Regions from separate parts of the Homo sapiens genome. Here region 2 is linked to region 1. Evidence: fine-mapped expression QTL. A gene starts in region 1. The other region holds a variant in brackets. All regions are shown on one strand. Distances are from middle to middle.

The links. PIP is the estimated chance that this variant, and not a neighbour inherited with it, causes the effect.
Region 2: its variant is the best candidate, but not a certain one, in a credible set for the expression of HSPA2-AS1 in tibial nerve (GTEx, PIP 0.68).

The regions. Positions count from the first base shown.
Region 1 is chr14:64,537,684-64,542,047 of GRCh38, reverse strand. It overlaps HSPA2-AS1 (HSPA2 and ZBTB1 antisense RNA 1), which reads left to right and starts at 1,680. Exons shown (of 4, transcript NR_110550.1): 1 at 1,680-1,731. HSPA2 (heat shock protein family A (Hsp70) member 2) reads right to left here and starts at 1,307. Exons shown (of 1, transcript NM_021979.4): 1 at 1-1,307. The coding sequence starts at 1,198. RefSeq lists an enhancer at 1,163-1,272 and a silencer at 1,443-1,532.
Region 2 is chr14:64,625,200-64,629,587 of GRCh38, reverse strand. No RefSeq gene overlaps it. Among named protein-coding and RNA genes, the nearest start is that of PLEKHG3, 77 kb to the left of the region's middle. The variant CCTG/G (reference allele first, on the strand shown) is at 2,438.

The DNA.
Region 1 (4,364 bases):
TCACGTCGAGTAGCAGCAGGTCCTGCACATTCTCTGATTTGTCGCCGATGAGGATGGCCGCCTGCACCGCGGCGCCATAGGCCACCGCCTCGTCGGGGTTGATGCTCTTGTTCAGCTCCTTGCCGTTGAAGAAATCCTGCAGCAGCTTCTGGATCTTGGGGATACGAGTGGAGCCGCCCACCAGCACGATCTCCTGGATCTGGCCCTTGTCCAGCTTGGCGTCGCGCAGCGCCTTCTCCACCGGCTCCAGGGTCCCGCGAAAGAGGTCGGCATTGAGCTCCTCGAAGCGGGCGCGCGTGATGGACGTATAGAAGTCCACGCCCTCGTAGAGCGAGTCGATCTCGATGCTCGCCTGCGTGGACGAGCTCAGGGTGCGCTTGGCGCGCTCGCAAGCGGTGCGCAGCCGCCTCACGGCGCGCTTGTTGGGCCCAATGTCCTTCTTGTGCTTGCGCTTGAACTCCTCCGCCAGGTGGCTCACCATGCGGTTGTCGAAGTCCTCACCGCCCAGGTGGGTGTCGCCGGCCGTGGACTTCACCTCGAAGATGCCATCCTCGATGGTCAGGATGGACACGTCGAAAGTGCCACCGCCCAGGTCAAAGATGAGCACGTTCTTCTCGCCGCCCGCGCAGCCCTTCTTGTCCAGGCCGTAGGCGATGGCCGCCGCCGTGGGCTCGTTGATGATGCGCAGCACATTGAGCCCCGTGATGGTGCCTGCGTCCTTGGTGGCCTGGCGCTGCGAGTCGTTGAAATAGGCCGGGACCGTTATGACCGCGCTGTGCACCTTGCCCCCCAGGTAGGCTTCCGCGATCTCCTTCATCTTCGTGAGGACCATGGAGGATATCTCCTCTGGGAAGAAGGTCTTGGTCTCCCCCTTGTACTCTACTTGCACTTTGGGCTTGCCTCCCTCGCTCACCACCCGGAACGGCCAGTGTTTCATATCCGACTGCACTGTGGCATCCTCGAATTTCCGTCCAATCAGCCTCTTGGCGTCGAAGATGGTGTTGGTGGGGTTCATGGCCACCTGGTTCTTGGCGGCGTCGCCGATGAGGCGCTCGGTGTCCGTGAAGGCCACGTAGCTGGGGGTGGTGCGATTGCCCTGGTCGTTGGCGATGATCTCCACCTTGCCATGTTGGAAGACCCCGACGCACGAATAGGTGGTGCCCAGGTCGATGCCGATAGCCGGGCCACGGGCAGACATCCTGACTGAAAGGCGAGCGACGTTAGGACGGGAAAACCAGGGAGATGAACTCCGCGGAGTCAACTAACGGCCACCTCGAACCAAGCACCACGGGCACTACCAGCAACTCAGCTCCCCGCGCCCAGTTCCCGGTTCTTATAGCCGCCTCTGGGAACTCCCAGACCCAATCCGCTCCCGGGACCGCCCTCACAAACTCTTCCAGCTCCACCACAGGCTTGCCTAGGTCGGAGTGACTGGCCCGTGACCCAACAGATTTCAAGTTGGACGAGGGGCGGGACTCCGGCCCCCGCCAGGAGACAGAGGGGCGGCCGTTATGTAAATGAGGTTCCTCCCTGACTCTCGGCCGCCAGGCCGTGGTGCCTCGCGCGCCTCCTGCTGCTGGCTGGCGTTAGGCGCGCGCTCCCAGAGCCAGGTGTACGCGCTTTTTCGCGGTCTTTGCCCTAGCCGACGTGCATCGGATTGGCAGGGCACGCGGCCAATGAGCAGTGCGGACTGAGGCGCGGCACGGGGAGGAGGCGTGGAAGGGGATCCCGGTGAGGAGAGCCACTGGGAGAGTTCGCTCAATTCCTGAGGTTTTAAATGCAGTTCACTGCTAGGGTGCCGACTCACTGAGCACGCAGGGGCGGAGGAATTCATTCTGAGTTGGTTGCACCGAAGAAATAAAGCTCGAGCAGCTTGTTTTCCCCGGCGCCGTCCAAGGGGAGGGAATAGGGAATTGGGGTGGCTGGGGTGGGGGGTGAGGGCGGATCCCTTGGACGGGGATTAAAGAAAAGAAAAAGTCTGAACCGGCGGTCGGCCTCCTGGGATTTTATGGTGGGTGCTTCACTGCGTCTCAGTGGTTGTGAGCGCTCGATTAAAACTGCCTGGCTGGGGCCGGGCGCAGTGGCTAACGCCTGTAATCCCAGCACTTGGGAGGCCGAGGCGGCCGGATCACGACGTTAAGACATCGAGACCATCCTGGCCAACATGGTGAAAGCCCGTCTCTACTAAAGATACAAAAATTAGCTGGGCGTGGTGGCGCGTGCCTGTAGTCTCAGCTACTCGGGAGGCTGAGGCAGGAGAATCGCTTGAACCCGGGAGGTGGAGGTTGCAGTGAGCCGAGATCACGCCACTACACTCCAGCCTGGGCGACTGAGCGAGACTCCGTCTCAAAAAAAACAAAAAAAAACCCCACTGCCTGGCGGGCGGAGAGAACCTGAGCCCAGGGCGAGGCCGACCGTTTTCCCGCGCCGCGTGAGGGCGGCTGGCGGGACGGCAGACAGGGGTGTGGCGGCGACTTGTCCTCCGAGGAGCCTGCATTTAAACCCTTCCTGCCTCACTCTTCCTTTTTCCTGTTTGTCCTGCCGCTTTAAACTCTGGTTTCGCCTTCCTGTTCATTCCATTGCTTATTTTAGGTCGCAAGTGCTTTATCCACTGCTTTGAGTTTTTGACTGGAAAACCCATAATATAATCAGTCAAAACCCACACGTTGAAACACCATAAAGTCACCCAGTCTCGGTCACCCTGGCACACACGGGGTTGTGATCGTGACCTAGTCATGTTTCTGACTCCGCTCAATGGAATGGAATGATTTTCTTTGGCTGTGCTGAGGTTAATATTGGAGGCATAAACCCTCCGAGAAGGTAGATGAAAAGGAGCGCGATTCACTTCCTCCTGTTTAACAGGAATGTGAGGACAGGTCTGGAAAATACCCTGGCACCAGGTAATAATCTTTAGAAGCAGGCTCCCATATAAATGGGCTCCTGGACGGGTGTGGAGGCTCATGCCTGTAGTTTCAGCACTTTGAAAGGCCGCGGTAGGTGGATCACTTGCTGTCAGAAGTTCGAGGCCAGCCTGGCCAACATGGTGAAACCCCGTCTCTACTAAAAATACAAAAATTAGCCGGGCGTGGTGGCGCGCGCCTGTAGTCCCAGCTACTCGAGAGGCAGAGGTTGCAGTCAGTCGAGATTGCGACACTGCACTCCAGCCTGGGCGACAGAACGAGACTCCGTCTCAAAAAAATAAAATAAATGGTCTCCAGGAGGAAGCAAAGACAGCGATCACTTTACATAATATGTGTGGGGAGGCTGGGGAAGTCCTTCCATCAAGCTTGAACAGGTACCTACTACGTGGCAGTAAAAAGCCAAATGAAATGGCCTGGTCTTCAGAGGTGGAGAGTCTAATAAACAGGTAAACATAATTTGGGAGAAGCGCTGAAAGCAAAGCGCCATGGGAACACAGAGGGGCACACCCAGGCTGATGGAAAAGTGCGTTGCTGAGAGCTACCTGGAAGAGGTGGCATGCCTAATCCGGGAGCTGAAGTTCGCCAGCAAAGAGTAGGAAAGCCATTCTTTACATAGGTTGTGTATGGGCGAAGATGAGAGCAATGTTTGCTGGACTAGGATTTCTGTACAGAAGATTAGTGTCACTAGAAGGGAGGGATACAGGCAAGCAATAGGCTCTTCAGGTGGATAGGATACATCTCAGAGCTTTTTGAGCCATGGTCTTTTTCCTGAGGCTTTGGGCTGGGAGCACCGTCCTTTAAAGCAGGCTAGTGATGTGCAGCCATGTAAAAGCTGTATGAAATGGCGCTGGAGAAAAGCTTTTGTCAACCCAGAAGTTATCTGTGACCAAAAAGTAATGTTGAGAGAATTCTATAAAGTCAATGAACATTTAAGATTATTTTATCTAGTGGTGTATATCATTTCCAGTTTTTAAGAACATAATTGGTTATTAATCGGTTAATGTCATCAGTTAGTACTAATTTTAACCATAATTCCTATCCTCTTTTCCATGAATTTGAAAAAATTTTGAAAAAGGGGACGTTTTAAAGAAAATATTAGAAAGGCTGGACGCGGTGGCTCATGCCTGTAATCCCAGCACTTTGGGAGGCCGAGGCGCGTGGATCACGAGGTCAGAAGTTCAAGACCAGCCTGGCCAAGATGGTGAAACCCTGTCTCTACTAAAAATACAAAAATTAGCCGGGCCTGGTGGTGGGCGCCTGTAATCCCAGCTACTTGGGAGGCTGAGGCAGAGGATTGCTTGAATCCGGGAGGCAGAGGTTGCAGTGAGCTGAGATCACGCCACTGCACTCCAGCCTGGGCGACAGAGCAAGACTCTGTCTAAAAAAAAAAAGAAAAAGAAAAGAAAATATTAGGAAAACAAGGATAAAACCCAGACTTTTCTA
Region 2 (4,388 bases), 88 kb before region 1:
CAAAGTGCTGGGATTACAGACCTGAGCCACCGCCCCCAGCCAAATTTCTTACTTTTTAATCATGTGTATGTATTACCTTGACTCCCTTTATTAAAAAAGAAAATAGCTGTGCATTATATTAACTAGATTTCTAATCTATCTCTTACAGGGTTGATTTTAATTTTCTTTTCCCTGCATGTGAGACATGCTTTGCCACAGCACAGGGCCCTTGGAAACAGTTTGTTTTTATAGCTTCTGTGTCTCTGTAGGTTTCTATAGCTCCTTGAAGTCTGTTTTGTGTATCTCTTGATTTATAAGATGTTCGTGAATCATTCCAAATAAAGACTTCCTTCTTGCAAAAATATGTAAAGAAATAGCAAGGGATGATTCAGAGTTTGAGGCGAGCACTTTCATCTCCAAAGAGCTAAGCAGTGAGCTGGGCAGCACGCAGTCACGGCCAGCCTGGCTAGCACATCATCTGCGCTCAGCTGGGCCTGGCCATGGCCTCAGAACCAGTCTGCCCCCTGCTTGGCACTCTCCAGCAAACGCACTTCCCTCCCCCACCCCTGTCTCCAGGCCACACTGGAAATCTCACACCCATTAACCTCAAGTTCACAGGCCTGTAGCGTCCACAGATAGTCTTCAGGGGACCCACAACCCACTAGAATTACATTTGCAACCTTGTGTTTTCTGGGAAGAGTGTGCAGATAGTCTTTAGATTTTCAGTGAGCTGTACATAGGTCTCCAACTCTCCTCAAAAGGCAACTTGAAGTGGTATTTACACCCATAGAAACAGTAAAGACTGTGATTCTCTACCCCTTATCATGCTTTCAGCATAGGATGGTGGCTAGAAGCCCCACCTCTGGACTAGACTGCCTTGTCTTTAAGCCTTCCTCCACCATTTCCTAGCTATGTGACCTCAAGCAAAGTGCATCACCTCTCTGTGCCTTTGTTTTCCCAATTATAAAATGGGACAAATAATAGTACCTACCTTCTTGGCTCATTGTGAGGGTTAAAGGAGTTAATATAGGTGAAATGCTTAGAGCCTGGCACCAAGGCAGTTTCAGGTGGTGTTTGGCCCCGCCCTGCTGAAGTCTGACAACTCACAAATGGTCACCCCATTGCTGTGTGCATATCTTCCATGTGCTTGGGGATGTAGCTGAAGCACATCCTAGGGGTCAGTGTGGTGGTTCAGGGTGCTCTAAATGCATAGGTGACACTACAGAGATCCCATGGAGGGGAGCGGAAACTGCCAAAGGCTGTGTGTTGGGTAGGGAGTAGTCATGGCAGCTTCTGCACTGAGCCCTCCCCCAGTGGCTTCCTGGGGCTCCTTCATCTGCTGGACCTAGAAGAACTGTGTATCGTTCTCCTCGACATCGTCCCATCTAACACACCCTCCTCTCTGCCTACTTGAACCTCCACTCATCCTTGGAGACTTCGCTTGAGTCCCCCACTGAGGAGTCTTTTGTGACCACTGCCTCCCCATGTGAAACACACTGCTCTTTCTATGGGACTTGTATTAATCTGTTCTCATACTGCTCTAAAGAACTGCCCAAGACTGAGTAATTTTTGTTTGTTTGTTTGTTTGTTGAGATGGAGTTTTGCTCTTGTTGCCCAGGCTGGAGTGCGATGGTGCAATCTTGGCTCACTGCAACCTCCACCTCCTGGGTTCAAGCTATTCTCCTGCCTCAGCCTCCCAATTAGCTGGGATTACAGGCATGAGCCACCACACCTGGCTAATTTTTGTATTTTTAGTAGAGACAGGGTTTCACCATGTTGCTCCTGACCTCAGGTGATCCACCCACCTTGGCCTCCCAAAGTGCTGGGATTATAGGTGTGAGCCACCTTGCCCAGCCGAGACTGGGTAATTTATAAAGGAAAAAGGTTTAATTGACTCACAGTTCCACATGGCTGGGGAGGCCTCAGGAAACTTACAATCATGGTGGAAGGGGAAGCAGGTACCTTCTTCACAAGGTGGTAGGACAGAGAAGAGTGAAGGAGGAACTTCCAATCACTTATAAAACCATCAGAACTCGTGAGAACTCACAAGAACAGCATGGGGGAACCACCCCCAAGATCCAATCATCATCCTCCCTTGACACATGGGGATTACAGGTCCCTCCCTCGACATGTGAGGATTACAATTCAAGATGAGATTTGGGTGGAGAAACAGAGCCAAACCATATCAGGACCCTTTGTGTTTACTGTGTTTAGTGCAAGCCATGCCGTGTGCAAAGTGAGCCTCATGCATTAGCTCATTTAATTCTCACAACAACCTTTACAATAAACAGAAATGATGATTATCCTTCATTACAGATAAGAAAATTTAGGCTTAGATAAATATTTAAAACTTCATCTGCCTGAGGCCAGGACCCATGCTTTTATCCACTTCTCTAAACAACCTCTCTGATTCTGCCCAACTCCTGCAATGCTTTTTTTCCCCTTAGTTAAAAAACCT[CCTG/G]TGGCCCTCTTGAAGACAGGTTCATATCTGATTCATTTTTGTATCCCAAACATCTATTATTGTGCCCAGCATATAGTAGGCACTCAGTAAATGTTAAATGGATGGAGTGATCTGGAATTTGGGCTCTGCAAAAATTTTGCCATGACTTTCTCCAGGTCATAACCTTTTAAAAAGGCTTCTAGCCTATATCAGGGTAAATGCTTACTTAATTCAATAAAAAGTATATATTTACTTAGTACCTACTATGTGACAAGCACATAGGTCTCCAATACTCCTGACAAAGGAACTGTAAGTGGTTTTTACACCTATGGGAACAGTAAAGATGGTGATTCTCTTTCCCTTATCATGCTTCTAACATAGCACAGTGGATCCCCACCCCCAGACTAGAGGTTACAGCAATAAATAAAACAGCAAACCCCTCCACCTCACCCTCTTGAAGCTTATATTGTCTTTTCATTTGAAGAAAGCCTCACTGGGCACCTCCCCTTGGCAGTGCCATTATGACACTTCTTGCTGATAGTGTTTGTATTAGTCCATTCTCATGCTGCTAATAAAGACATACCCAAGACTGGGTAATTTATAAAGAAAAGAGGTTTAATTGACTCGTAGTTCAGCAGGGCTCGGGAGGCCTCCAGAAACTTAACAGTCATGGCAGAAAGGGAAGCAAACATGTCCTTCTTCACATGGTGGTAGCAAGAAGTGCCAAGCAAAAGGGGGGAAAAAAGCCCTTAAAAACCATCAGATCTCATGAGAACTCACTCACTATCACAGGAACAGCAGCATGGGGGTAACCGTCCCCATGATTCAATTACCTCCCACCAGGTCCCTCTCACAACATGTGGGGATTATGGGAGCTACAATTCAAGATGAGATTTGGGTAGGGACACAGCCAAACTGTATCAGTGGTGAAGACTAGACCTGTCCTCTTAGAGTTATCATACAATCCAGATGAATAAATACACAGGTAAAAATAAAAGGCAACTCCCACACAAAAACCAAACTACAGTGGCTCCCGGCTCCCAGCTCCCAGGCAGGCTGAGAGCCCCAGGGCCACTGGCTCAGGTGCATGTTTTCCTGAGCAGCCCTTCAGACCCGGCAGAGGCCCTCACGGAGCAAGTCGGGGGGCACTCCCAGTGTTCTCCTCTGGCTTCACCCCTCACACATGCTGGGCTCCTGCCTCTTCCTCCCTCCTGCTCCAGATCCAGAAGAAGGGCCTGGGCAGGCCCCGTGGTACTCCTGACTTGCCTGGGCTGTTGTTAGCATAGAGATCAAAAAGAGAAAGTGCAGCCAGGGGGTGCGGGGAGAAGCTGGTGAGCCGAGGCAAGAGCTGGCTCCGGAGTTGGCAGCAGCCAGGACACCCAGGTCAAGTGCAAGGAAACAGCGCAGAGGCACTGAGACCGACAAGAGACCCAAGGTCACAGAGCTCACCGCGCATGTCCTTCCTGTTATTTTCCCTCCATGTGCAGAGTTTAAAGTATGAAATCCCTGTAGCTGTGAAAGCGGGGAGACATAAGAGTCTGTTGCCTCAGGGAGAATCTTACTATTGGATTACAAAGGCTCAATATGGAACTCAGAGGGTGGGGCAGATCAGCTCTGGATTCTTTCCTTCTATTTGCCTTTCTGCCCCTACCTACAAGACAAACAGAGCAGCCTGTTGTCTGACCTCCTCAAGCCTATAAGAGTCTCTGCACAAATCTTCACCATTCTTCGGCAGCTCTTTCTGGGGTATCTTCCTGCCCCTCACCTTCCACCCCGGCTAGCCTTTGGCTCACCCTCTGTCCAACCCCACACCTGACCCCAGCTTCTGAAATGAGCTATTCTTATTTCTGAGACTATATATGCATGTATTGGGTCACTTGGGGCCAGCGTGGGGGAGCTGGGATTTAGGGGCTCCTTCACCTTCAGGAGTTCAAATCGTCATTTGATTTAGGGGTAGGCCTGCAGCCTA